4 linked regions of the Homo sapiens genome follow. The protein of the gene in region 3 interacts with the protein of the main gene of each other region in a biochemical or structural test. Each region holds a gene or a part of one and is shown on either strand. Other genes may lie near its edges. The genes, in order: CALCOCO1, TRIP11, ARNT and GTF2F2.

Region 1 (7,903 bases), on a different chromosome or scaffold from region 3:
ACTTTGCGCTAAAATTACATCAATGTTTTTCCTACTTCCCACAGAGTCCACAGTTTGGAAACATTCAGAACAGCCTACAATATCTGATAGAGCTGCTTCTGAGTGTTTGTAAAGCACCCAGCAGAGTGCCTGATACATGGCAGACACTCAGTACTATTAATAACACTGGCCATCATTATTTTCTCAGAAAGCATCTTGTTATATTGGGAAAGGTATAGGTTTCAGAATAAGATTGTTCTTAGAGGCTTTTTTTTTTTTAGACCGGTCACATTCTCGTCGCCCAGGCTGGAGTACAGTTGGTGCATTCATGGCTCACTGCAGCTTTGATTTCCCAGGCTCAGGTGATTCTCCCACCACAGCCTCCCGAGTAGCTGGGGCTACAGGTGTGCACCACCACACCTGGTTAATTTTTGTATTTTTAGTAGAAACAGGTTTTGCCATGTTGCCCAGGCTGGTCTCTAATTCCTGTGCTCAAGCAATCTGCCGGCGTTGGCCTCCCAAAATGCTGAGATTATAGACATGAGCCACCGCGCCCAGCCAGTAAGTTACTCTTAAAGTCTCAGTCTCTTCATCTGTAAAATCTGGATAGCACCTTGCACAGTTATTGTGATGATTCAATGGGTGAAAGAGCACCTCTCACATAGTAGGCACTCAACTAGTGGTAGCTCCTCAAAGCATTCCCAGAGTCCAGGGCCAGCTTCCATTAAACATTTATTATGTGGTGGGCACCGAACTACATGAGGCAATACCAGAATTAGGACTTTTGCAAAAGAGAAAAGAGACAACATTTCAGGGAAATGGATTCACTTTTCAGCAGCTCCTTCCCAAGTTCTACGGAGCCCTTCGACAATCATGGCAGTCATCTCCCTTCCCCAGACGAGTTAAACTATATTCTTAAAAAAAAAACAACAGTCCCCAAATCTCCCACTCTCACTCAGAAATATTCTTTGATCCCAATAACTGTAACTTCCACCTGTCTTCACAGTATTATTCCCCTTTTTCAAAAAATCTTCAGTGACTAACTTCCCATTCCTGATGGGAGTGAAGTCCAAACCTTTGTACATGATGTATTGATGAGGAAAACAGTAGCTACTATAAAAAATAAACCCATTTTAGCAGTGTAACAAAATTGAAATTGATTTATTGGTCAAGTGAAATCTGAAACACATGATCCTGATTAGTGGTCCGCTCTCTGCCACGTGATGATTCAGGGAACCAGCTTCCTTCCATCCTGTGGCTCCACTGTCTTTAACATGTGGCCTTCAGGGTCACTGTGCCTAAGGTCATCTTCATCAAGCTAGACAGGAAAAAAAATAGGAAGGAACTTTTTTGGAGGGTTTTATGGGCCAGACTTGAAAATGGAACACATTAATTAAAGGAGAAGCTTAAAAATGTGGTATAGCTAGGCCGGGCGCGGTGACTCTTGCCTGTAATCCCAGCACTTTGGGAGGCCGAAGCGGGCGGATCACGAGGTCAGGAGATCGAGACCATCCTGGCTAACACGGTGAAACCCCGTCTCTACCAAAAATACAAAAAAATTAGCCAGGTGTGGTGACGGGCACCTGTAGTCTCAGCTACTTGGGAGGCTGAGGCAGGAGAACGGCATGAACCTGGGAGGCGGAGCTTGCAGTGAGCTGAGATGGCGCCACTGCACTCCAGCCTGGGCGACAGAGCAAGACTCCGTCTCAAAAAAATAAAAAAATAAAAAATAAAAATAAAAAAATAAAAAAATGTGGTACAGCTGTGTGTCCAAGAAAAAGAAAGAAACAGGTTCTGATAAACACATAGGCTCTGGCTCACTTGACATTCAAAACTCTCTATACTCTGGCTTAAGTCTGTCTTTCCAATTTTATCTTCCATTATCCAATTATCCAACTGTAGCTTCTTTTTGTTGTTGTTGTTGTTGTTGTTGTTGTTTGTTTTGTTTTTTGAGACAGAGTGTCACTCTGTTGCCCAGGCTGGAGAACAGTGGTACCATTCTGGCTCACTGCAACCTCTGCCTCCTGGGTTCAAGCGATTCTCCTGCCTCAGCCTCCCAAGTAGCCGGGATTACAGGCACGCGCCACCATACCTGGCTAATTTTTGTATTTTTGGTAGAGATGGGGTTTCACCAGTTGGCCAGGCTGGTCTTGAACTCCTGACCTCAAGTGATCCGCCCACCTTGGCCTCCCAAAGTGCTGGGATTACAGGAGCAAGCTACCACGCCTGGCCTCCAACTGTAGCTTTTATTCAGCTTTGCTGCAATCACAACCTACCCCAAAATCTAAGCGACTCACAACAACCAGTGCTGGCTTCTGATTTATGTATATGCAGGTTGTGGGTAAGCAGTAGCTCAGCTCCACAGGTCTTCTCATTCCCAGGCCCAGGCAGAAGGAGCAACTCTCATGTGGATTATTCCCATTCTAGTGGCAGAGAAGAACAAGAAAGTGGAAACTCATGTGTTCAAACATGGCATGAGTCACATCTGTTCACATCCCATCAGCCAAATTATGAAACATGACAAAGCCCAAAGTCAATGACATGAGACATCTATTCCTTCTACAGGAGATACTGCAAGTCACATGGCAGTGGGCAGGAATGAGAGAGGAAATAATTTCAAACAATTAGTCCATCCACTACAACTGCCATTTTCCATCTGGAGTACATGGCAGACATTACTACCCAGCACTCTTTCCTCAGAATCCTCAACACAACATTTCAGGCAGACATTACCAATAATCTGAGTTTGCCTAAATACATAAATAAAGGTTGAAATTGATGTGCTATTATGTGACTCTAGGCTCATTATCCATTCCCACCTCCAAATCTTTGCTTTGGCCTAGAAGAAGCTTACCCTCCCCAGTCCCCATCTTGCCAAACTATCCAAATTTAATCTATCCTTCAAATACTTGAATATTTGAAAGTAATGACTATAATTAAAATAATGAATTACATTTATTATTTTAAAATAATGAATTACATATATTATTTTAAAATAATGAATATTTACTATTCATTCTTTCAATAAAAGTAACTGAATACCTAGCATAGTACCTGCCACATATTTGTTGAATGAATCTGTTTCACATTACTTTGTGCCTTGCACTGAGCACATAAATGCTCAGTGAACATTTGTCTCCTGTTAATGAACCAGCACTGTTCCTTAGAACAATGGGAGTTAGTATCACATGCCAGAGTTTCTGGACTGGGAGTATGGTGACTGCTTGTGCTTAAATCTTGATTCTGCCACTCACTAGCTGGATGACTCCAGGCAAGTCATTAATTGTGCCTCAATCTCATCATGTGTAAAATGGGGATAATAACAAGGCGTATTACATAAGCCTGTTGTATTAAATGGGAAAATTCTTAGCATAGTTTGAACAGATCATAAGCACCCAAGAAATGGAAGTTGTTACCATTTTTAGCTCCGAGACTGTTTTCTCGTAGACCTTTATTTTGGGCGGAAGACAAGAGCCAAGAACTCTTGAGACTTGGGTCCTTGAACAGACCTCACTCTTAACCCACTCCAGACCTTGAGCTACCTCCTCATCCAGAAACTGGTTCCCTAACTCATAAATCCTGACTAATGACACAGACACATCACCTTAATGTTTGTGCAGCCCAGTAACTAATTTTTAAGTGCCTGGAGATCTTCAGATGAAAGACACTGAGGGCAGACACCGCATTCAGTCATAAAAGCAAAACACTACCAAAAAACTTGGAAAAGGCAGAAGCTCCATAACTTAGTGCAGTAGAGAATTAAAGCAGGCACCTAGGAAGAGGAAATCAATCCTTAAGACTGTAATCCTTTAATGCAGAGCCAGAGAAAGAGGTAATTCTGAATGCCTCCGACTACAGGGATGGAGAATAGCGAGAGGGGGGACAGGATGCCCAAGTCTATAACGTGACTTGGGGTGTGGGAGACGTGTCAATCTTTCACCTCTCCTAAATAAAAACCGGAACGTCAACATGTATTGTTATCCTAATTAATTTAAGCCACTTAAAAGGCTTGGGCAAACAGGCCCCATAAGTGGCTTGTTTGTGAATTGTGACAGGTCCTGAATTATGCCAAGCTCCCTTTTCAATTTCATTCTTCTCATTCCACCGCTCCTACCACCACCTCAGTCAATTGTATCCTCTTCCTAGACCCAGAAGCCACTCTGGGGGAGCCCAGTCCAGATGTGGATATGGTCAGGCCCCTTAGCACTGAAATCCTCAAGTTGGAAAAAAATGGTCAGCTGTGCAGAAGACATCATTCTTACAAGGTCTGTCCCTGAGATTGAAGTAAAGAAGAAACTGCTATACCCCAGCTATCAGTTTCCCATCCCCAAAATGGTGGGTAGCTGTGGTGTAGTGGCAAGAATATATGACGTGGAATTAGCCAAGGCTAATGCAGTTCTACATTTCATAGCTTTGACACTTCACACCGCCTCCTTAACCGTACTTCACTTTCTACATCTATAAAGCGTGCATAACGCTTAACGCCTATCTCACAGGTGGGTGCGAAAAGTACAGGACGGGACGCAACAGAAACCGCTCTGCCCACCGTTAAAGCGTTATATGGAAGGCTTTAGAGCCGTAAATCCTCCCCAGCCCCCAACAACGCACGTTACAAACCAGCAGCCACCCCTAATGCAGCCGGCCCCCTCCTAAGGGATCATGGGCCTTGAAGTCCTTTGCTGGCCACACCCTCGTTTTCTGTCATAGGAGTGAGAACTACGCCTCCCAGGATGCCGCGGTGAGGCCGCCGTCACGGACGCCCTCTTCCCCGCCCTCCTTGCGCGCAGCCTTCTGGGATGTATAGTCCTAGATCCGAGCACGCAGCGGCAAAAGGGCGCAGAAGAACCACAAACCCCAGAAGCCCTCGCGCCCACTCTTCTCCCTCCCCTCCAGAAGTCGGAGTGCTGTTTTTGTTGTTGGTGAAAGGTGAGGGGAACAGCTGATCCGTCTGTTGGGTAAGAAACTTGGCCTAATTGGGGGCGATCTTATGGGAGGGGAGGGTCACCCCACTTTCCAGTTTGGGGAAGGATAACGTAAGGGAACTGTCGAAGGGGAATACAGGAGCGTTTGGGTTGTAACCCTTTCCGTACTGGAGAAGCCACCCCCGCTGTTTGGGGAGTTCTTGGTTTCAAGGGGACTCTGATTGGGGGTGGGGGGCGCCCCCTCGTCGTCCTCTCCTTCTTCTCAATGCGTCTCTATAAAGCTGATCCCTTCAAGGGAGCTGAAATCTGCTTATTCGCTCCCAGGCAAGACGTGTCCCCTACACGTCTTCCCTCTCTCCCCTACGCAAATCCAAAGGCCTTTACGACGCTGAATCCCTGGGGAGGAAGGGGGACCTTCCAAGGTGTAGAATGTCAAGGAACTCTAGAGCCCTACAGAGTAGGGGATGGGACACCCGCTCTCCGCCCCATCATGTGAACATCTGAATCAGGCTACACACCTACATCTTAGGTGCCCAAAACTTTCTTTCGGACATGAAGAACGTTTACAGCTGTTACGGATTTTCTTTGTGGGGTGTATTTTAGGGTTCTCCAGGTATATCTTTGGGGACAATTTACCCCCACCCTTAGAAAGCTGGAAGAATTGCATTTGGAGAAAACATGGATTAGTTTCAACCAGGAATTTTTCAGGGAGATGAACATTAAAAAAAACTTTTTGTTCTACCTATTTGGGGGACAGAAGTTGCTCCTTTTTGTGTTGCTGGCTCACCTTTATCCACTGAGTTTCTGTTTTCTTTTAAAGTTCCTGTCCCCTGGACTTCAGCCTGGTGTGGGTTTGTGATGTTTGGGGGCGTGCATATGACTAGTGACAATGGCTGGTTGGACATGTCAGCTGTGAGTGACACAGGAAATAGATTAGTGGGCTGGAAAGGAGTGATGAATAAGAGGGCCATCTCACAGCCCTGGACTGAGGAGTTCTTTTGATCGTTATTATTGTTATCTGTCCTCACCCCACCCTCATATTTTCCAATTAACTCTCCCCAGCTAACTTGGAACACCCCTTCCTCTCAACCCCATCCTGTAGTGTGTCTCCAGCTACCAATACAAACAGATGGAAGGATGGAGGCTGAGGGGAGCAGAGAGAAAATGAGGAGAGAAATACTAAAGTGAAACCAGTAGGTTTCTAGTCCTGCTGCAGGCACAGTCTGGAGAGAAGAATGTTAGGTTCTTTTTGAACTATCTCCCCTTTCCTCAACGTTAAATATACATTTCCACTTCTTGGGGCCCCTTACTTCCCACTTTCTAGTCTGTTCCCTGCCCTGGGGTGGGGCTTTCCTGGCTCCAGGCCCCCACATTCCATCTCCCCACCCCCACCACGTTCCTGCTAAGCGCCTCACTCCACCCTTGAAGTTGCCGCCTCCAGAATTCTTGACTTCCTGGAATAATAAGTCAAGGGACAGAACCTGTCTTTCCTTATATCCTCCCCTTCCCTTTGTCTCTTGGATGCCAGCAGAAGCTTTCTGCTTCCCTAGAATTCATGGGGGTAGGCAGCTCAGAGAGATGAAAAGAGCTGAGAGCTCAGGAGCCTAAGGATTTGGGCTCAGTTCCCCTCGACCCCCAGCCATATTCTAGCTCTGAAAACTCAACCATTCCTTTCAGAGATTAGTTGCTGCTTTCTGATGTCATAACTCATTCCTGGATACAGCTGGGTCAACAAGCTTAGGAGTAGGTAAGGACACCTCTCTCAATGAGAGGGCCCCACACCTCAGTTGGATTTTGTATTCAAGAGCCAGGATGTGTGGGAGATGGGATGGAGAAATGGAGGCTGTCGACCAAGTCGCAGTATCCCAGGCTCTGTCCCCGTCAGTGTCCTTTTGGGAGCAAAATTAGAGAAGTCTGAACCCTCAGAAGGGTCTATGAGCCAGAGCGGGTACAGTGTGAGACAGGATGGGGACGGACTTGGAAGGCCAGACCTACGTCCTAGAGACTAAGAGTGATACCTCAAAAATGTCCCGTAACCCTCAGGGACTAGAAACCAGGTATGCCTTATCTCCAGGTGTAGTGGCAGGGGCTGTGAGTGTGTGGTGCTGGAGCTGTGGGGGGAAGGAGGTGGACTGGAAAGACTTTAGGCTATCAACCCTTTCTTTCATAGGAGGACAGATATCTCAAGGCCAGGATGGAAGAATCACCACTAAGCCGGGCACCATCCCGTGGTGGAGTCAACTTTCTCAATGTAGCCCGGACCTACATCCCCAACACCAAGGTGGAATGTCACTACACCCTTCCCCCAGGCACCATGCCCAGTGCCAGTGACTGGATTGGCATCTTCAAGGTATCTCTGGAACCCCTTTTGGCTTAGGTTTATGGGCTGTGAGTTGGTTGGAATAAGGGGAATGATTGGGCTCTTGGATTCTCAACCTCAGGTTGATAGAGAAGAAGAGAGAAAGATGTCACAGATGACAGAGGCCGCCTGTATAACCAAAGCACATATTTTCTCCATCTTAGCCTTGTTCTTTACTGACACATTAGTGTCCCTCCACTTTCCCTTTCTCTTGTCATTGTTGCCACTGTAGCTCCATCCTGCCCCCCTTATTCAACCCCTCAGCCCTTTCTTCCATCCATAGAAGGTAGTTCCATGACCATACCTTTCTCCAACCTTGGGCTTTCACAGGTGGAGGCTGCCTGTGTTCGGGATTACCACACATTTGTGTGGTCTTCCGTGCCTGAAAGTACAACTGATGGTTCCCCCATTCACACCAGTGTCCAGTTCCAAGGTACAAGGGAAGATGGAAAATTGGGAGAGAGGAGCCAAGGGAGTGGAGGTTTGAAAGAAGGTAGTGGGCTCAGAAACATTAAAAGTTAGGCACAAAGGACAAGGAAAAATAAACGAAAATAAATATAATGAGAATATATCCAACAGCGCTCAGCGGATAGAGAATCACGGGATTATCGCAGAATCAGGGACATAGAAACAGAAGGAACTT
Region 2 (7,443 bases), on a different chromosome or scaffold from region 3:
GCCCTAATCTTGTTTACATTGCCTGTTTACACTGTTTCTCTAAGCCATCACAGCTGGTATCTCCTGGTGCTATCCCCAAACCGCCACTCTTAACTCCCTCTTAGAGTGGATAGATGATATTTGCTGGCAGGGCAACCTCCAATATTTTCACTCTGATGAAGTTCTATTCTTTACTTTTATACTCACTCTTATTCTCATTCCCATTCTTATGCCACCCTCTACCTCTCCCCAGCTATCTCCACCACACTATCAATCTTACTCTCTCCTAGCCGTTTCTAATCCCTCCTTAGCGAATAATTGCTGGCTTTGCATTTCCCTTTCTTCCTGCACCTACACAGCTGCCCCCGCCTTATATACAGACTGGGCAACATCTCCTGTCTCCCTACACCTCCAAATTTCCTTTAACAGCCCTCATCTTTACCCTCCTGAAGAACTTCTTCACTTTCTAGACAGGTCCAGCAAGGCCTCCCCAGACATTTCACATCAGCAAGCTGCCGCCCTCCTCCACACTTACTTAAAAAACCTTTCTCCTTATATCAACTCTACTCCCCCCACATTTGGATCCCTCACAACACAAACTACTTTTCCTGTGGCTGCTCCTTTATGTATCTCTCAGCAAAGACCCACTGGAATTCCCCTGGGTAACCTTTCACCTTCTTGATGTTCATTCACTCTTCATCTCCAAAGCCCAACTACACACATCACTGAAACAACTGGAGCCTTCCAGCTCCGTATTACAGATAAGCCTTTTATCAATACAGGCAAACTTAAAAACATTAGAAGTAATTATTGCTTAGGAAGACACCCTGTATTTCACTCCATCCTTGGCTACCTTCCCCTTGCTCGTCAGACCCTCCTCCCAGGCCTTCTTGTTATACCCAGCCCCGTAAATAACAGTGAAAGGTTGCTCATAGACACTCGACGTTTTCTCATACACCATGAAAATTGAACCTCTCCCTCTACACAGTTACCCCATCAGTCCCCATTACAACCTCTGACGGCTGCCGCCCTAGCTGGATCCCTAGGAGTCTGGGTACAAGACACCCCTTTCAGCACTCCTTCTCATCTTTTTACTTTGCATTTCCAGTTTTGCCTGGCACAAGCTCTCTTCTTCCTCTGTGGATCCTCTACCTACATGTGTCTACCTGCTAACTGGACAGGCACATGCACACTCATTTTCCTTAATCCCAAAATTCAATTTGCAAATGGGACCAAAGAGCTTCCTGTTCCTCTCATGACACCGACATGACAAAAAAGGGTTATTCCACTAATTCCCTTGCTTGTCGGTTTAGGACTTTCTGCCTCCTCTATTGCTCTCGGTACTGGAATAGAAGGCATTTCAACCTCTGTCACAACCTTCCATAGCCTCTCTAATGACTTCTCCACTAGCATCACAGACATATCTTAAACTTTATCAGTACTTCAGGCCCAAGTTGACTCTCTGGCTGCAGTTGTCCTCCAAAACTGCCAAGGCCTTGACTTACTCACTGCTGAAAAAGGAAGGCGCTGTGTGTATGTGTGTGTGTATATATATATATATATATATATATATATATTTTTTTTTTTTTTTTTTTTTTTTTTTTTTGAGACGGAGTCTTGCTCTGTCACCCAGGCAGTGGCGCATCTCGGCTCACTGCTCACTGCAAGCTCCACCTCCTGGGTTCATGCCATTCTCCTGCCTCAGCCTCCCAAGTAGCTGGGACTATAGGCGCCTGCCACCACGCCCGGCTAATTTTTTGTATTTTTTTAGTACAGACAGGGTTTCACCATGTTAGCCAGGATGGTCTCGATCTCCTGACCTCATGATCCGCCTGCCTCGGCCTCCCAAAGTGCTGGGGTTATAGGCGTGGGCCACTGCGCCCGGCCGGGCTCTGTATATTTTTAAATGAAGAGTGTTCTTTTTACCTAAATCAATCTGGCCTGGTGTATGACAATATAAAAAAACTCAAGGACAGAGTCCAAAAACTTGCCAACCAAGCAAGTAATTATGCTGAACCCCCTTGGGCACTCTCTAATCGGATGTCCTGGGTCCTCCCAATTCTTAGTCCTTTAATACCTGTTTTTCTCCTTCTCTTATTTGGACCTTGTGTCTTCCGTTTGGTTTCTCAGTTCATCCAAAACCATATCCAGGCCATCACCAATCATTCTATATGACAAATGCTCCTTCTAACAACCCCACAGTATCACTCCTTACCACAAAATCTTCCTTCAGCTTAATCTCTCCCACTCTAGGTTCCCACACCACCCCTAATACCGCTCGAAGCAGCCCTGAGGAACATCGCCCATTATCTCTCCATACTACCCCCCAAAATTTTCACCACTCCAACACTTCAACACTATTTTGTTTTATTTTTCTTATTAATATAAGAAGACAGGAATGTCTGGCCTCTGAGCCAAGGCCTGCATGTATACATCCAGATGGCCTGAAGGAACTGAAGAATCACAAAAGAAGTGAAAATGGCTGATTCCTGCCTTAACTGATGACATTACCCTGTGAAATTCCTTCTCCTGGCTCAGAAGCTCCCCCACCAAGCACCTTGTGACCCCCCCGCCCCTGCCTGCCAGAGAACAACCCCCTTTGACTGTAGTTTTCCACTACCCACCCAAATCCTATAAAACTGCCCCACCCCTAACACCCTTTGCTGACTCTCTTTTGGGACTCAGCCCACCTGCACCCAGGTGAAATAAACAGCTTTATTGCTCACACAAAGCCTGTTTGGAGGTCTCTTCACACGGATGCCCGTGACAAGTGCCTGCCACCACATCCCACTAATTTTTGTATTTTTAGTAGAGATGGGGTTTCACCATGTTGGCCAGGCTGGTCTTGAACGCCTGACCTCAGGTGATCCACCTGCCTCGGCCTTCCAAAGTGCTGAGATTACAGGCGTAAGCCCCTGCACCCGGCCCTGTTTTTTTTTTTTTTTTTTTTTTTTACATCCCGGAGTCACACTGGATATCTGAATGTGCTTAAAATAAAATTCACATCTCATTCTGGAAGTGTTTATTAAATGCTGTCCCTGCATTCATGTGAACATCACAGCCCAGCGGTTAGATGTGCAGACTCCAACGCCTGACTGCCTGGGTCTGTCACTTACTAGCTGTATGACCTTGGATGGGTTACTTAACATTTCTGGGCACTGGTTTCTCATTAGTAAAATGAAGAATGGGCGCCTGTAGTCCCAGCTACTTGGGAGCCTGAGGCAGGAGAATCGCTTTAACCCGGGAGACGAGGTTGCAGTGAGCCTAGGTCCCGCCATTGCACTCCAGCCTGGGCCACAGAGCGAGGCTCCATCTCAAAAAATAAAATTTAAAAAAAAAAAATTCAGCTTTCACGGAGAATTACTACTGCCTGGTGCCATCAGATCCCAAATACTGGAGGCATTCCCAATGTTCTGTTCACAAACTGTGCAATCTGTGATAGCCCCTCTTGTGAATATAATCAAAGTGAAAGATGCCAGTATACTTATTGCTATGCTTAAAAGAACTGCAGATCTATCATATCCTTTTGAAACCAAAAAATGTGGAAGTCTCCCTGGCTAGATGCTGTGTGTCCACGTATCCTGCACCAATTGCTTGAAAGTCACATGACAACCTTTCTTCCTTTAGGGAAGGAAGCAAGCAAGGTAGGACTCTGTGTGTTACAGCCAGTGTGGGTAACTAAGGACTGAGGGAGGTGTGGGCACTTGCATAGCTAGTGCCGCCAATACCATAGGAGCGTTGACACTAAACGGCACTTCTCTATTAAGTTGCCCTGCTGTCTTCTAACGAGTCATTTTGAAAAACGGTTGTCCGTTTTTCAACTACTTGGGTGAGGGCAGCTTCATGAAAAAAGCTCATCGTATGTTAAAGAAGGTAGGGTTTCAATTGTGAGCTATAAAGCCACCAGAGGAGATTTCTCCTATAGAAGGAAGGTGTGTTTCCTGCTTGGACACCTGAATTTGCAACCCATCCTTTCTTTTTTCCTTTTTCCTTTTTTTTTTTTGCAACCCATCCGTTCTATCTTTGTAGCCTCAGCTCCTACCATAGTGCCTGTCACGGAGCAGCTAATCGACACAGTGACGCGTGTAAGTTATTTGAAGCCACTTCCTGCGCAGTGGAACGTCCCCGCCAAGTCTCCCGGCACTGCTGGGTGTAGTCCCAATTAAAACACTAGGTTTCAACAACACAAGGAGGGTCCGCAGGGTCCCCGGACTACCCACCAAGGGTCGGCTCTGCTTTGAAACGCAGCTGCAGGAGGCCGAGGAGCGCCGCGATGCCCCAGTTATCCAGGCCATTCCTTCCCCGGCCGAAGCTGGCCGCCTGCATGCACCTAACCTTGCGCTAGGCACTGGCTGCGGTTAATCCAGCCCGCGCTCGGTCCTCCGCGATCCCAGCCTCCCTTGCGCCAAGGACACGTCCGGCGGCTTCGCGGGGCCTGTCTACGCCACCGCGGCGCTTTTCTATGATCCGCTGCCGCTTTCCGAGCGAGTGTCATGGCGGCCGGCGTCGAGTTGGCAGGAGTAACCCACGGAACTGAGGAAAGTCATTAGAGCTGAGAAAGAAGTGGCCCAATCTGGACGGTGGGAATTCGTGGGAATGAGCAGAAGGCCCTCCGTAGGTGACTGTGTCACTAGAGGCGGGCCCCTGGTAAAATTCCAGGCCAGGCCTCTGCGTTTCTAGGCAGAACCTGGAGTCGGCCTTGCCTGAGAACCCAGCTTTGTGTTATCGTATCCTGTCTCGCGAAGGCAGGCGTTCAAGGATATTTGGTCGGATCGCCCGGCGGCGCTAAACGTTTTCTTTTTTCCGAGCGGACCGGGTCGTTCTCTAAACTCGCCGCGATGTCGTCCTGGCTTGGGGGCCTCGGCTCCGGATTGGGCCAGTCTCTGGGTCAAGTCGGGGGCAGCCTGGCTTCCCTCACTGGCCAGATATCAAACTTTACAAAGGATATGCTGATGGAGGGCACGGAGGAAGTGGAAGGTAACAGCTGGAGCGAGGGAAGGGAGGGCTTTTCTAAGACCCTGGGAACGTCCGTTTGGTCCCTACTTCCATCAGTCAGGAGACGCGGACAGGTCGCAAAGGAATGCTGCTCCTCCCTTTTTTCTTCACACACCTCCTCTTGCCTCTTCTCAACAGATTTTCTATGATGAAAGACCACTGGGGGCCAGGGGAAGAGTCCTGGTTCTCCTCTCTTTAAATATTCTGGATATCTCAAAGTACAGTAGAGTGAAACTGCTCCTACGTTAAGTCGAGTTTATTTTCGTTTGGTTGATCCACGCCCACCACTTTGCCCTCAGTTTGGGGGCTGATCTCATTCTTAACATCTTCCTGTATTCTGACCCAGTTTAAAGAATTGTATATCTGTTTTCTATTTTTGTAACAGTTGAAATAACTCATAATTTAAACACTTGGTGAGTTTTGCTCTTTTCTGTCTTGAGTATGTTATGAAACACGGCCATGTTTTTCTATTTAATTATTTTTTACTTTTCCTTATTGTGATGATACATTATAGCGTTCCAGCTGAGAATGTATTTTTGTGTATAATCGCCCATTTCGCCCATATTTCGACAGTAGAATAGGGAAGACAACCCTATTCTTAAGGTACCCTTAGCAATCTTCACTCATTTTTGAAGTCCTCAATCTCGTTTTACTAATGAATAGTGACCCAGAGTTACATGGTAATCAATGGCTACATTAGTTACTATCCATTAATTACTATTTTGATTTCTTGGCATTTTAGTAAGCAATGTTTGGATCAAAACAGTTTTTAAGTTTCAATCTAAGTCTGCTCCAGGGAGATAATGGGCTGTTCTTTTGGGTGAGAGCTGCTGCTTTGACAATTGTATTTCTTATAAATAAATTTAATAAATTAGTATTCTGGCTTAGTTTTTTTTTTTAATTGCTAATTTAACAGATCCTTCATATTTATTTGGTAGAAATCGGGAAAGATTGTTTGATAGAAAGATAATGCTTATGTTTTGAATTTCTGTGGGGTCTATTTAGATGGAAGGAAGAATAGACTGGGGAGCTACCGAAATCCATTTTACCGCTTTACGTTCCCCATGCCATAAAGGTGCATCAGTGAGACAGCTTTGGGGATAGAAATGAAAGGGCTTCTTTATGTGTGGGGGAAAGCATGGGACCTTGAGGGCAGTCAGAAGCACAGAAGGGCTGGATAACTATGGGAAATGACTGGTCGCTCCTTGTATCCTAGATAGGGGAAAACGGTTGGCTGTTCCTTAGACCCTAAGCCAGAGAATATGCATCCCTCAACCTGGATGTCTTCCAGGTTTAAGGTGGTGTTCATTTTGTTCTCCTGCCAAATGTGCTGTTTTCTCATTCTTAATAGCTTCACTCTCAGTTTCCTAAACTGTAAATCTTCGTGTCCTTGTTTTATGTCTTTTTTCATCTCCTACTTCCAGTTGGTCATGATATCTTGTTTATCCTATGCCAGAATTGTCCTTTGCTTTATTACTCCTTATTCTTTAGATCCCTATAATCTTTCCCAGGGACTATTCCTCTTTCATGTCCTGTCACCCATTTCTCCCTACCCCAGTCCATTTTCTATTGTATTGTCAGTTACTTTCTAAAAACAAACCTGCGTAAAAATTTCTTGACCCTGTTACAGAATAAAATCCAAACCTCTTAGTTTTGGACTGAGTCTCACTCTGTTGCGTAGGCTGGATGCAGTGGCGCGATCTCGGCTCGCTGCAACCTTCGCCTCCCGGGTTCAAGCAATTCTCCTGCCTCAGCCTCCCAAGTAGCTGGGATTACAGGCGTGTGCCACCACACCTGGCTAATTTTTGTATTTTTAGTAGAGATGGGGTTTCGCCATGTTGGCCAGGCTGATCTCGAACTCCTGAGACCGCAGGTGATCCTCCTGCCTTGGCCTCCCAGAGTGCTGGGATTACAGGCGTGAGCCACCGCACCCGACCTTCAATGTACCTTTTCTAGTTGCCATACCAGTTGCTGTACATGTGCACATATATATGCTTGCTTGTACGCACAGCTTCTGTCGTGTGGGATTTTGTCAGGCACTTACACAACTTCAAGCCTCTACATGGAAAGCCCTTTCTTCTCTATTTCCTCCTTCACCCAGAAAACAATTCTCCTGTACAACCCTGCTCATATGTCAGGTACTTAAGTACTTGGTGAACCATTCTGACTCCCACACAGGTTGAGTTGTTGAGTTGAATGTTGGTGATCTGTGTTCTAACAGAACTTTGTGGATCTCTCCCTGACAGCATTTAACATGTTGAGTTATAATTTATCTGTTTTCCTGATGCCCAGCGTGAGGACTGAATTTTTTTGCTCCTTATATTACCAAATATGTGACACCTTCCTTTTGGCACATAGTAGATGCTCAATAAAAATGGCACAAGTGCGTGATTAGAAATCTGCAAAGTTGCTTAATGCCTTTATTCTTTCCCCTTTGTATTTCAATCGGACTTGCTTAACACCTAATTT
Region 3 (7,031 bases):
GTAATAGTGCTTGAACATGTTAATTGTGCTGGTGGCCCTGCAGTGTTTTTCAAGGGGACCACGTTCTTCTGCATTTTTCACTGTGGTGCTGCATTAGAAGAAGAGTAAAATATGGTTGGTACTCTCTAAGAGTTGTGTTGAAGTAATAGTTCTGTGATGATTTTTTTTCTCGAATTGATAATTCTTCATATTCTATCATTTTTCACTAGTTCTACTTATCACTGGCAAGTAGAACTCGGTGGGTAGGTGGTCCATGAAACTTTAGGCTGTTTCTTATCTATGGACTAGACAAGTTTTGTTTTGTTTTTTTTTTGTTTGTTTGTTTGTTTTGAGACAGAGTCTCACTCTGTCGCCCAGGCTGGAGTGCAGTGGTGCTATCTTGGCTCACTGCAAGCTCCGCCTCCCAGGTTCACGCCATTCTCCTGCCTCAGCCTCCCGAGTAGCTGGGACTACAGGTACCCGCCACCACGCCCGGCTAATTTTTTTTTTTGTATTTTTAGTAGAGACAGGGTTTCACCCTGTTAGCCAGGGTGGTCTCGATCTCCTGACCTTGTGATCCGCCTGCCTCGGCCTCCCAAAGTGCTGGGATTACAGGCTTGAGTCACCGTGCCCGGCCCGGACTAGACAAGTTTTGAGGAACACATTTTTTTTCCCCATAGGAGAGGGTCTTGCTCTGTCACTGAGGCTGGAGTGCAGTGACACAATCATGGCTCACTGCAGCCTTGACCTTCTGGGAGCATGTGATCCTCCCACTTCAGCCTCCTGAGTAGGTGGGACCACAGGTGTGCACCACCGTGGCTGGCTAATTTTAAATTTTTTTTAGAGACAGGGTCTTGCTATGTTGCCCAGGCTGGTCTTTAACTCCTGGCCTCAAGTGATCTTCCTGCGTTGGGCACTCCCCAAGAGCTGGGATTATAGGCATGACCACCATGCCCAGCCAAGGTGGAACACTTTTTAAATTGAATGTGTCATTTGTAATGCATTGGCTGAGGGAACAGTTGGGAGGAGATTAGGTATTTGATTTACAATTCCAAATTCAAACTAGAGATGTTGAATGAGTTTGTAGTAAGTGTAGGTTTTTATCTCTCTTGATTCTGGTATTCTCATTAGCAGAGAATTCTTTTTGTGCTATTATGTACAAGTTACTGTGGATGAAGAATGTAGAAGGAAAAGGGTAATACCGTTTGGGTTTGTAAGGCTGTCATTTAGGAAGAAAATTTTTTTTAGCTAATTTTCACCTATATAACTTAGTTTTAACTGCGTCAATTAACACAATTCTTACCTGTTACCTTTATTTACCTTTTTCAGATATGGGAAAATAGGAATTCATGCAATGTAAAGTTAAGATGTCAAGATATTCTTTTATGGCCAGGTGTGGTGGCTCGTGCCTCTAATCCCTTTGGGAGGCCGAGGCAGGCCGATTGCTTGAGCCCAGGAATTTGAGACCAGCCCGGACAACGTGACGAAACCCCTTTACTACAAAAAATACAAAAAATTTTCCGGGCACTGTGGTGCACTTCTATAGTCCCAGCTACTTGGGAGGCTGAGATGGGAGTATCACCTGAGCCTGGAAAGTTGAAGCTGCAGTGAGCTGTGATCATGCCACTGTACTCCAGCCTGGGTGTTGGAGTGAGACCCTGTCCCCCAACAAAAAAAGAGATAGTATTTTATTATATTGCAAAGGCCTTTTTTTTTTTTTTTTTTTTTTTTTGAGACAGGGTCTTACTGTGTCGCCCAGGCTGGAGTGCAATGGCGTGATCTTGGCTCACTGCAACCTCCGCCTCCTGGGTTCAAGCTATTCTCCCGCCTCAGCCTCCCGAGTAGCTGGGATTACAGGCACCTGCCATCACGCCGGCTAATTTTTTATTTTTAATAGAGACAGGGTTTCTCCATGTTGGCCAGGCTGGTCTTGAACTCCTCACCTCAGGTGATCCGCCCACCTTGGCCTCCCAAAGTGCTGGGATTACAGGCGTGAGCCGCCATGCTCCGCCGCCATCTGTTTTTAAGAATGCTGCCTTGGCCGGGCATGGTGGCTCATGCCTGTAATCCTAGCATTTTGGGAGGCCGAAGTGGGCAGATCACCTGAGGTCAGGAGTTCAAGACCAGCCTGGCCAACATGGAGAAACCCTGTCTCTACTAAAAATACAAAAATTAGCCAGGCATGGTGGCAGGTGCCTGTAATCCCAGCTACTCGGGAGGCTGAGGCGGGAGAATCGCTTGAACCTGGAAGGTGGTGGTTGCAGTGAGCTGAGATCGTACCACTGCACTCTAGCCTGGGCGACAGAGTGAGACTCCGTCTAAAAAAAAAAAAAAAAAAAAAAAAACCACGACTGCCTAATATGCCATAATGACTTTAGTAAGTAGACATCAGTGAATCTTCAGGTTGGAAATATGACAACACCTATCATTTTACACTTAAGGAGACAAACCCAGGGAAAGGAGTGGATAATTAAGTTCCTTCTATATGCCAGGCTGCACTTTCCTATTTTGTTGCTAATCTTTATGTCTAGTCTGTAGCAACTGTCTCCAACTTTTCACATAAACTCTTCAAATTTATGTCACTTTTCATAATTTCGTCAATGTATTTTCTTGTTTTAAAGTTTTTATTATTTTAGATAGTGACCGGGTCTCACTATATTGCCCCGGCTGGTCTCAAACTCCTGGGCTCAAGCAATCCTCCTGCCTCGGCCTCCCAGAGTGCCGGGGTTACAGGTGTGAGCCACCCTCTGAGGCCCATTTTATATTTTCCCTCCACGTTTTCATTGTAGTTGAATGGACAAGTAAGTTTATGGATTCAACAGTATACTTAGGGCTGGACATGGTGGCTCATACCTGTAATCCTAGCACTTTGGGAGGCTGATGTAGGTGGATTGCTTGAGCCCAAAAGTTTGAGACCAGCCTGGGCAACGTGGTGAAACCCCATCTGTACAAAAAAATACAAAAAATTAGCAGGGTGTGGTAGCATTCCCTGTAGTCCCAGCTACGTGGGAGACTGAGATGCGAGGATGACCTGAGCCTGGGAGGTTGAGGCTGCAGTGAGCCATGATTGTGCCACTGCATTCCTGTCTGGGTGACTAGGAGACAGAGTGAGACCCTGTCTCAAAAAACACAACAAAACCAGCATACTTAGGATATAAGTTCCATGAGAGCAGAACTTTTGCTTTCCTTGTTTACCAGAGCATTGCAGTGCTTACAGTGGGTGCCTAGTATGTTGGATTAGAGTTCAATGTATGTTTGTGGAATAAAAATGAATGTAAAACCCACTGTTAATATGAAATACCTTTGAAGGGATAAAACTAATTAAGCCATTGACATCATGAATTTGTACTAACTATAATAATATCTAATATTTATTAGTAATACTTACCAGCTGTTCTCATTTAATTTTTATAACAATCGTATTAGGTAAGTATTATTATTCTTGTTTTACAGATGAGGAAACTAAGGCACAGAGAGTGAATAAGTAACTTGTCTGAAGTCACATAGCTACTAGAAGTTAGAGACAGAATTTTATTGTTGGCAGTCCATCTACACAGTCATCATTCTTAATCTCCAAGTTATGATTTTTTCCATTGTGACTTAGAGTCACCTTCCTACTGAAATATAGTACAATGGATATCTTTTGAGAAGGAGGTAGGTGGAGTATTGTCTTTTTTGTAGATGAAAAGGGTGAAATACCACATTAGGCAGCCTGGGGGCAAGGCATTGCTTGGTTGGAGAACCAAGTGCAAGGTGCTAAAAAAAGGAGCTAGAACAGTAGTTTCCAGGCTGAGTGTGGTGGCTCATACCTGTAATCTCAGCACTTTGAGAGGCCAGGGTGAGAGGATTGTTTAAGCCCAGGAGTTGGAGACCAGCCTGAGCAATATAGGGAGACCTTGTCTCCACAAAAATATATATAAAAAAATTAGCTAGATGTGGTGGTGGATGCCTATAGTCCCAACTACTTGGGAGGCTGAGGTGGTGGGAGGATCTCTGAGCTTGCTAGGTCAGGGCTGCAGTGAGCCATGATCATGCCACTGGACTCTAATCTGGTTGACAGAGTGAGCCCCTGTCTCTAGGAAAAAAAAAAAAAAAGGAGTAGTTTCCTAAAATCTTTTCTGTAACATTCTATAATTCTTCATTTTGTTTTGTTTTGTTTTTTTGAGACTGAGTGTCCTTCTGTCACCCAGGCTGGGGTGCAGTGGCACGATCTCAGCTCACTGCAAGCTCCGCCTCCCAGGTTCACGCCATTCTCCTGCCTCATCCTCGCGAGTAGCTGGGACTACAGGCATCCACCACCATGCCCTGCTAATTTTTTGTGTTTTTAGTGGAGATGGGGTTTCACTGTGTTAGCCAGGATGGCCTCGATCTCCTGACCTTGTGATCCGCCCACCTCAGCCTCCCAAAGTGCTGGGATTATAGGCTTGAGCTAGCGCGCCCAGCCTAACATTCTATATTTCTTTCTCCTAGTTCTATGTTTCAATTCTTTAAATACTTTTAAGGGTTTTTTTGAGACAAGGTCCTGTTGTGTCAGCCAGGCTGGAGTGCAGTAGCGTGACCATAGCTTCCTGCAACACCTCCAATTCCTAGGCTCAAGCGATTCTCACTCCTCAGTTTCCTGAATAGTTGGGACCATAGGTATGCACCATCATGCCCAGCTAATTTTTTAATTTTGTAGAGACAGGATCTCGCTATGTTGCCCAGGCTGGTCCTTTTTTTTTTAAATTTTATTATTATTTTTTGAGACGGAGTCTTGCTTTGTCACCCAGGCTGGAGTGCAGTGGCGTGATCTCGGCTCACTGCAACCTCTGCCTCCCGGGTTTAAGCGATTCTCCTGCCTCAGCCTCCTGTAGCTGGGACTACAGGCACGTGCCACCGCGCCTGGCTAATTTTTGTGTTTTTAGTAGAGACGGGGTTTCACCATGTTGGCCAGGATGGTCTCGATCTCCTGACCTCGTGATCTGCCCACCTCGGCCTCCCAAAGTGCTGGGATTACAGGCGTGAGCCACCGCGCCCGGCCTGCCCAGGCTGGTCTTGAACTACTGTCCTCGAGTGATCCTCCTGCTGTTGGCCTCCCAGATTGCTGAGATTACAGGCATGAATCATGCACTGCAGCTTTTAGGATTGTTATTAGAATCCTCTACAAGTTCTTGATACTCCATAATTGAGCCTCTCCTAGAAACTTGGTTTCAGAGACACTGTTGCTAGGTCTTTATCACTGATTGTTCCTTCTTTGTCCTTTTTGCTTATCTTTCTGCTTGTTTCTTTCTCTTGTTCAGTATGCTTCTACTTTTCTCTTCTCACCCTTGAGGCTAGGACTCTTCTTTGAGACAGGGTCTTGACTCTTTTTTGAGACAGGGTCTTGCTATGTTGCCCACGTTGGTCTTGGATTCCTGAGCTCAAATGATCCTCCCACCTCTGCTTCCTGAGTAGCTGGGATTACAAGTGTACACCACAGTGCCCGGCTTGGGGCTAGAACTAAATAGTAAACCAAGCAGTTTCCTTCATTTCTTCCCATTTGCCCACCTACCTGCCTTTCTAGCTGCTTGCCTTCCTACTTCAATTTGACATTCACTTGGTACCTACCATAGTCCTCTTCCCTTTGTATTAGTCCATTCTCACACTGCTATAAATAACTACCTGAGACTGGGTAATTTATGAAGAAAAGAGGTTTAATTGACTCATAGTTCCGCAGGCTGTATGGGAGGCAGGGCTGGGGAGGCCTCAGGAAACTTGGAATCATGGCGGAAGGCGAAGGGGAAGCAAGCATGTCTTCACATGGCTGGCAGGATAGAGGGAGAGAAGGGGAAGGTGCTACACACTTTCAAACAACCAGATCTCTTGAGAACTCTATCATGAGAGAGCATTAGGGGAATGGTGCTAAACCTTTGGAAACCACCCCTATGATCCAATAACCTCCCACCAGACTGCACCTTCAACACTGGGGATTACAATTTGACATGATATTTGGGTGGAGACACACAGAGCCAAACCATATCACCCTTTATTTATCTTTTATGTATAAAAGACTCCAAAAATTTCATTCCTGGCTTCTCACATAAACTACTTTCCTATATTTTTATCTATTTAAAAGATATCTCTCTCTTTTTCTTTTAAAGTTGAGACAGGGTTTTACTATGTTGCCCAGGCTGGTCTTGAAATCCTGGGCTCAAGCATTCCTCCCACTTCAGCAACCTGAGTAGCTGGACTACAGGTGTGTGCCATTGTGCCTGGCTGCATCTCTGTTTGAATAGTTTTTTTTTTTTTTAATTTATAGAAATGAGGTCTCACTGTATTGCCCAGACTGGTCTTGAACTGCTGAGCTCAAGTAGTCCCCCCATCTTGGTCTCCCTAGTAGCTGGGATTATAGGTGTATGACACGATGCCCAGCTCTATTTGAGTAATCTGTTTTTTTTTGTTGTTGTTGTTTTTTTTAAAGACAGAGTCTTTCTGTGTTGCCCAGGCTGGAGTGCAGTGGTGCGATCTTGGCTCACCGCAGCCTCCGCCTCCTAGGTTCAAATGATTTTTGTGCCTCAGCCTCTCGAGTAGCTGGGACTACAGTGTGCCACCACGCCTGGCTAATTTTTTGTATCTTTAGTAGAGATGGGGTTTCACCATGTTGGCCAGGCTGGTCTTGAACTCCCGTCCTCAAGTGATCCACCTGCCTTGGCCTCCCACAGTGCTGGGATTACAAGTGTGAGCCATTGCGCCCAGCCTCTATTTGAATAATCTTTAACATCCTATATATGTATGTACTCACCAGTATTTCCTTTAAATCTGCTGTTCTTCCTACCTTTCTGTATCTTTCATCACTATCACAATTCAGTTTTTCATTTCCCCAGGCTAAGGAACTATAAGTGTTTGGATTTTATTTTTTATGTGTTTATCTGGGTTATTAACTCTTCTCAGGTCTTTTGCCAAATATACGTGTGTGTGTGTGTATATGTATGTGTGTATACATACATATATAAAAGTTATTTAAATCAAAACTATACATCCATATATTAATATTTAAAGACTTAGATAGTTTTATAAAATGTTTGTTACAAAAA
Region 4 (6,910 bases), on a different chromosome or scaffold from region 3:
CTACAAGCGTACACCACCACGCCCAGCTAACTTTTTATAGTTTTTGTAGATAAAGGGTTTTGCTATATTGCCCAGGCTGGTCTCAAATTCCTGGGCTCAAGCAATTCGCCCACCTCGTCCTCCCAAAGTGCTGGGATTACAGACATCAGCCACTGCACCCGGCCTGCCATAAGCTCTTCTTGAAAGCTTCTTTGGAGGTTCTAGCAGGGGAGTACAACCATACATATACCCTTGACTGAAGACCAGTCCTCCTCTATCCGGATGGTCATCCTCTTTGGTCAAGCGTGCAGCTTCGGGAGGGACATACATGGAGCAGTGTGGGAGGAAGGAGACACCCGCCTAGCCAGCCAGATTAGCCAAATCAACCCTAGTAATCAATGGGGTGACAGATGTCCCAGACAGATCACACTCACATCCATTTTTTTTTTTTGAGACAGGATGTCACTCTGTCGCCCAGGCAGGAGTGCATGCAGTGGCACAATCTTGACTCACTGCAACCTCCAAATAGGCTTTTCTTAAACGTCACCTTCTTTATGATGTCTTCCCAGTTCTGGTGAAGCACTAATTTTTTTCCCGCTCAAAACTCTCAGAGATCTTGTATGTATAGTTCTTACTGTATTTACACAGTTCTATACCTGTCTAGTGATGGAATTAAATATGTACAAGATGATCTATAAACCGTGAGATATCCTAGGAAGAAACATTATTTAGCAACAAAGATCAGAACTCAAGGTATTATTTTTAATAGGAAAATTAATGTAAGGAGAAAAAACTTGAAATCAATATGTACTTCAATTCAAATTCTGATTAGATGAGAATGAAGATACACTTTCTAAGCAACAAATTACACTTTTTTTTAATTTATTTATTTTTTTGAGAAGGAATTTTTGCTCTGTTGCCCAGGCTGGAGTGCAACGGAGCAATCTCGGCTCACTGCAACCTCCGTCTCCCGGTTTCAAGTGATTCTTCTGCCTCAGCCTCCCAAGTAGCTGGGACTACAGGCGCACACCACCATGACTGGCTGATTTTTGTATTTTTAGTAGAGATGGGGTTTCACCATATTGGCCAGGCTGGTCTCGAACTCTTGACCTCATGATCCACCCACCTCGGCCTCCCAAAGTGCTGAGATTACAGGCGTGAGCCACCATGCCCAGCCCGATCCTGTGATAATTTTCTAATTGTGACTCTGGTTACCCTCCCCTCTAATTCGTACTGCACACTGCCAAACATTTTTTTTTTTCCTGAATAAATATCTGGCATCTCTACCTCACTCAAATCCTCCAAAAAGTTCGTTACTTCCTTGTAAACTAAAGTTAGAATATCTCCGTTTCATGATATGACAATCTGAGTATATGGTCCCCATCTTCATCTACACAGATCTTCTGCTCTAGGTTCTCTCTGTTTTCCACAACACGCCATGCTGATTATATATTTTGAGTCTTGCATTTCTGTTCCATTCCCCATGGTATACACTGTGTCCACCCATCCAAATCCTGTAAGACAAACATTGAGCATTTACCATGCTCCTAGGACAATGGCACCATCTCAAGTCACACCATTTTTTCAAGCTTTTTCCTTCAGTCCGTAAGGGCAATCTCCTCCTTAGTGACTCTCCCCCCAAGTAACATGCTGCTGGAGAGAGAAATGCCTATTTAATCCATCCTTTTAAGTCACACTGAGTTTGGAAATAAGTCAAATGAGTGCCACAGACTAAGGCGAGGGCTGAAGAATGAGAGGTCATGCATTTATTCATCATCTATTTGTTGAGTAATTACCATGCGCCAAACACTATTCTGGGTATGACAGGCAAAGATCCTGTTCTCATGGAATGTGATTCTGTGTGTTGGAAAGACAGAGGTAACCAACTTTGAACATATGAACACAAAATCACTCTACACTGTGAAAAGTGCTTTGAAGAATGTAATACACATCTGTCGTGTTAGCAAATGATCACAAGGGGGCTGTTTTAGGAAGGCCGACAAGAAAGACCTCTTAGATTTAATTGACGAGAACTCAGCCATGTGATAAAACAGTTAAAGCATTAAGAAACCAAAAGTCCTTACATTTTAAGTTTCAACGACTTTCAGGATCACATTTTGAATATGCTTAAGTATTATGAAACTCCCCTAGGAGAAAACACTCCCCAATATGAAACAATAAAGCACAAATAGTGCTTACTGTGAGCTAACCAAAATTGCTGTCTTCACATAAAACGTTTATTGACGGCCAGTTTCACGAGACCCAAATGTGCTCTAAAAGAATACTCCAGTCCAATGACCTCTCCTTCTGTGAGTTTGGGGCTCTCTCGCCTCTTTTGAGAGCTTCATTAAGGACCATCAACCTAAGAGAACACTTTTAAGAGTAGGCAGGGACCAGTCCTACTTTCTGGCCGAGAAAACTGTACAGAAAGTAGACATTCAACTACCTCACGCAGGCTCATGGCTAAAACCAGTTTCACCAAGGGAAGATACAAGGAATTCTTCAGTCTGGGATAAAATGCACCGTCCAAATCTGGGGACACCAAGACAAGATTCCAGGAAAGCCGTGAGAAAGAGATCTAGTCCAGGCAGATTCAGAGTAGTAACTGGCTGAAAGACACTTTGCGTCCCTAAACTAATTCCTCGTCTGCAAACAGATACAACAATGACTCCTGCCTCTCAAAATGTGTGAAGCTCTAACGAGATAGCCGTAAAAGAACTTTAAGAGGCGCACGGAGCGGGATAGGCTCAAGTTACTTAAACTATACTTGTGTTAGGAGGAGCGCAAGTGGGAGACTCGCGAACATTACCTTGACTAGCCACACTCCTGTGTTCTGTTTGGCGCCGGTCAAGTCGAGTTCCCCGCGCTCGGCCATGGGTCTGCAGCCGGTGGAGGCGTGCGGGATGCAGCAGCGACCCCAGGAGCCGCAGGGCTGAGGAGCGGGCGTCCGGAACAAAGGACAAGCCGCGCTGAGAGGCGAAGAGCCGGCGTTCCTTACCTGCCAGAACACTGGGAACCGAGGAAAAGAGGAACACGCCGCCAGGAGCCGGGACTGCGCCTGCGCACTGCTACGTCAGTACGGCGCGCTGTTGCAGACAAACTTTCTGTTTCGGAAATTTCTTGAGTGGGCGTGGCTGTCCGCGATGTCTGCATCTGAGGGATTAAAACGTAGGGTGGGATGAGCTAAAACGTTAGCAATGTATTTAAAGACATGGTCAGCATAACTGAAGAAAAAGATTATCAGAACGGAAAAATGGGGTTCAAAGAGACGAAAGGTGTCAGAACATGTCCAACCCTAGCCAAGGAGAGAGAGACAATATTTGAAGGACAGGGTCAGGGTAGTAAATTGGCGTCCCTGGCCAACGTCATTAGCACAAATGGGCACTGGGATCAAACTTAGTAGCCTTGGGTATATTGAAAACATGCCGTTTCTAGACCTGGAAAAAAAAAAGCCGTGTTTCAGCTCAGAGGCTACCCGAGCTGTTCTGATGAAGCAAGCGGAGCACCTCAGTTTCCAAAACCCGGAAGTCTGTAACGAAACGAACAAGTAAGAGACAAACCTGATCGTTTCCTCCCCTGCTTAAACAGTTTTCTCTTTCTCTTATTGCCTCTAGAATAAAGTTCAATCCTCCTGCTTCAACTGGGCCCTCTCAATTTCATCTCTTTGCACCTCCCACCATCACTCCGCCATGCACCAAACCACATCAAACCCAGCAGACTTCCCTAAACACGTCAGAATCTTCGTCGGTCATTTCAGAGCCTCTGCACACTGGATTCCCTTCCCTTGGAAGCCCTATTTTACCCCTGCCCTCACTCTCACCCCTGTGCTCTGGTTGGCAAACTCCTACTTATGGTTCAAGACCAATGAAAATGTCACTTCCTATGAGATCTTTTATCAACTTCCCCAGAAGAAATTAGTTTTTCTTCACATCACAGTGTGATACTTAGCACTCTGAACTATAATATATATGTTTACATATCTGCCTTTGCTTTCCAGACAATGAACTCCTCCTAGGCGGAAAGAGCTTTATTGAGGTATAATTGACAAATAAAAAATAGTGCTTTATTCATTTTATATCCACAATGTCTAGCACAGTGTTTAACACATTGTCAGGTTTCAGTAGGCTTTGGGTGAAAGAACATTCGCTGAAGAGAAACAAACAGTAAGGTATTGTTAAGAATGGCAAGTAATTTATTGAATCACACATCAGAGCCTTGCACAAAATTGAGGAAATTTTATGTGTGTTCAGCATAGGGCCAGGAAAAGCTGTCAGAACTCTGCTTTTAGCTAGGAAAACTAATAGGAAAGATGGGAGAGACCAGGAGTGTGTTGAAGATGAAAGTTTCAGGCTAGGCTCAGTGGCTCAACCCTGTAACCCTAACTTTGGGAGACTGAGGTGGGAGGATTGTGTCTGCCCAGGAGTTCAAGGCTACAGTAAGTCATGATCGTGCCATGCACTCCAGCCTGGGTGACAGAGCAAGGTCCTGTCTCTAAAAAATAAATACTAAAAACAAAATTTTTTTGGCCAGGCGCAGTGGCTCACACCTGTAATCCCAACACTTTGGGAGACCGAGATGGGAAGATCACTTGAGGCTAGGAGTTCGAGACCAGCCTGGTCAACATAGGAAGAACCCTATCTCTAAAAAAAAAAGAAAAACAAAAAAAAATTTTTTTAAGCAGAAAATGAAGGTTTCTTCTTGTGCAACAACTTGGAAAAGGGCCTTTTTAAAACATATAAAGAGTAAGCAGATTAAGGGAACTGCTCTAAACTTTAATCAAGGAGAAGGAATAAATTGAAATATGAGACCATGGGAGAAGAGAAGCAAAGTCTAGAGCACCCCAGGAATGGACTTTAAAGATTGGAACCCTGGCTTTGGTCTCTGGGTCATGGGAGGCCTTAAAATGTGTACGTGGTGTGGGTATGTGTGTATGTGTGTGTACACAGAGATTGAGAGAGAAAAAAAATGGCTGATGAAAGGGCTAGCGAAGAACGGAAAAGTGGAGATTTTAAAATGATACATAGAAGAAAGAAAAAAACAACGTATTGAGCACCTCTTCCTCGTACGCTGTTGAACAAAGAGCAAGCTTCTCCTGTCTGTCCTTTTCAAACCCCTTCTAGCTTGAAGAGGGATGTTTACAGAACCCTGATAGAAAAGGAGGGCATGGCCCCTATGAACCAAATTCACAGATTTACTGTGGAGACCCTTAAGGTGGATAGATACTACAGGCAGATCCCTCACCTTCCTAAGGACTCATTATATGCCAGATCCTCAGCTAGTTATTTTCTGTATTATCCCATTTAATCCTTATAACAATTTGCCAGAGTAGGTATTATTTTTCCTCAATATAGCCCTATATGTCATTAAACATATCAACATCCAAGAGCTGAGACCATATCCCAGGATGGGGCTCACAGAGCATAGGATGCAGAAGTCAGTGCCCCAGAGAAGGTAACACCAAAATTTTTTACTCCCTCAGATGATTAACTAGTCAAGTTGTTACCAAAATTTTTAAGGCGCAAATGCAATTCTAGGAAGGAGGGCCCAAGAACTCATTGCTGGCTGCAATTTTTCCAAAAAGTCTGGTAGTGCTTAGGCCAACTTGAACCTCCATCTTTATCTAGGGCTTAGATTCTAGGTCAGACCTCAAGGCCACCCAACCTTCTTTGCTGCTTTGTTTTTGTTTTTGTTTTTGTTTTTAGGCGGAGTCTTGCTCTATCACCCAGGCTGGAATGTGCAATGACATGATCACAGCTCACTACAGCTTGACCTTTCGGGCTCAAGCTATCCTCCCACCTCAGCCTTCCAAGTAGCTGGAACTACAGGTGCACACTACCACACCCAGCTAATTTTTGTATTTTTTGTAGAGACGGGGTTTCACCATGTTGCCCAGGCTGCTCTTGAACTCCTGGGCTCAAGCAATCCACCCACCTCAGCCTCCCAAAATGCTGGGATTACAGGCATGAGCTACCATGCCCAGCCCCAACCTGCTTAATAGGCAGAACTACGTTCTTTTTTGTGTGTCTTCCAGACTAGCTGCAGCAAGAAAAACCCCTAACACCACACCCACCACAAAACATGCTTCAGTCTAGATGAGTGTTCTCAGCCTCTGGTTCCTGTACAAGTTGCATTAGAATTACCTGGGGGAAATGTGTTTTAAAATGAAGACACCTGAGCCCCAATCCAGGCAAACAAAATTAGACTTTCTGGATGTGAGTCTAGAAATTGACACTTTTAGCAAGCTCCCAGAGTGTTTCTTAGGCACACCAAAATCTGAGAATCATTGTTCTAAATGATAGAGTTCTAATCGATAGAATTCTAATCGATATTTTTCTAATCAATATAGTTCATTAGAACTGGGCCAGTTTCCAAAGTCTGAGACACGTGAAAAAATTTACCAGAAAGCCTTACAGCTAGAATTCCCTCATGCCTTGTTAATTCAGAACACCACAATTCTATCAGGTAGCTATTAGAGAATAAGCAGCAAAGCCATTAGGCGAGATGTTACAAGTGAGTTGAGGGAATTAGAATGACTTTAACAGATAGCTGAGTTCACTTTCAGATTTTGTCCTTGTCTATCATACACAGGCCTGATCTCTTCAGGCCAGAGATTTTCTTTGTTCACACTTACTCAGAAACATTCTAGCAAGAAAAAGTATTACCTCCAGGAGAGTTCATATAGGCAAAAAATGCTACCACCAGGTCTTTCTTAATAGACCAGACTCATTACCTATTGGTTACTAACATAAACATTGTCATTCAAAAATTACAAATGAATACAGCATTGTGGTAATTCATTCAATTTCCCTGACATCAGTGATGTAGTAGGTAGATAATTTTGCTTCGTTATGACACCAAGGCTATAAAACGTCTCTGAATTCTCCCTGCCTTTCCCTTCAACCCTAACAGTTCCCTCCTTCATAGAATGCCC

What was found.
Region 1: the proteins of ARNT (region 3) and CALCOCO1 form a complex in vitro, tested with the Homo sapiens proteins (2 studies listed by BioGRID, with this or other methods).
Region 2: the proteins of ARNT (region 3) and TRIP11 form a complex in vitro, tested with the Homo sapiens proteins (3 studies listed by BioGRID, with this or other methods).
Region 4: the proteins of ARNT (region 3) and GTF2F2 form a complex in vitro, tested with the Homo sapiens proteins (one study listed by BioGRID).

The regions. Positions count from the first base shown.
Region 1 is NC_000012.12:53,724,435-53,732,337, reverse strand, and holds the start of CALCOCO1 (calcium-binding and coiled-coil domain-containing protein 1), read left to right. Parts: upstream 1-4,885; 5' UTR 4,886-4,934; exon of another isoform or gene 4,935-6,138; intron 6,139-6,578; exon of another isoform or gene 6,579-6,648; intron 6,649-7,071; 5' UTR 7,072-7,095; coding exon 7,096-7,251; intron 7,252-7,590; coding exon 7,591-7,693; intron 7,694-7,903. UniProt on the Homo sapiens protein: Functions as a coactivator for aryl hydrocarbon and nuclear receptors (NR). Recruited to promoters through its contact with the N-terminal basic helix-loop-helix-Per-Arnt-Sim (PAS) domain of transcription factors or coactivators, such as NCOA2.
Region 2 is NC_000014.9:92,037,060-92,044,502, reverse strand, and holds the start of TRIP11 (thyroid receptor-interacting protein 11), read left to right. Parts: upstream 1-4,443; 5' UTR 4,444-4,817; coding exon 4,818-4,956; intron 4,957-7,443.
Region 3 is NC_000001.11:150,866,588-150,873,618, reverse strand, and holds part of ARNT (aryl hydrocarbon receptor nuclear translocator), read left to right. Parts: intron 1-7,031. UniProt on the Homo sapiens protein: Required for activity of the AHR. Upon ligand binding, AHR translocates into the nucleus, where it heterodimerizes with ARNT and induces transcription by binding to xenobiotic response elements (XRE).
Region 4 is NC_000013.11:45,116,600-45,123,509, reverse strand, and holds the start of GTF2F2 (general transcription factor IIF subunit 2), read right to left. Parts: upstream 3,001-6,910; 5' UTR 2,855-3,000; coding exon 2,789-2,854; intron 1-2,788. UniProt on the Homo sapiens protein: TFIIF is a general transcription initiation factor that binds to RNA polymerase II and helps to recruit it to the initiation complex in collaboration with TFIIB.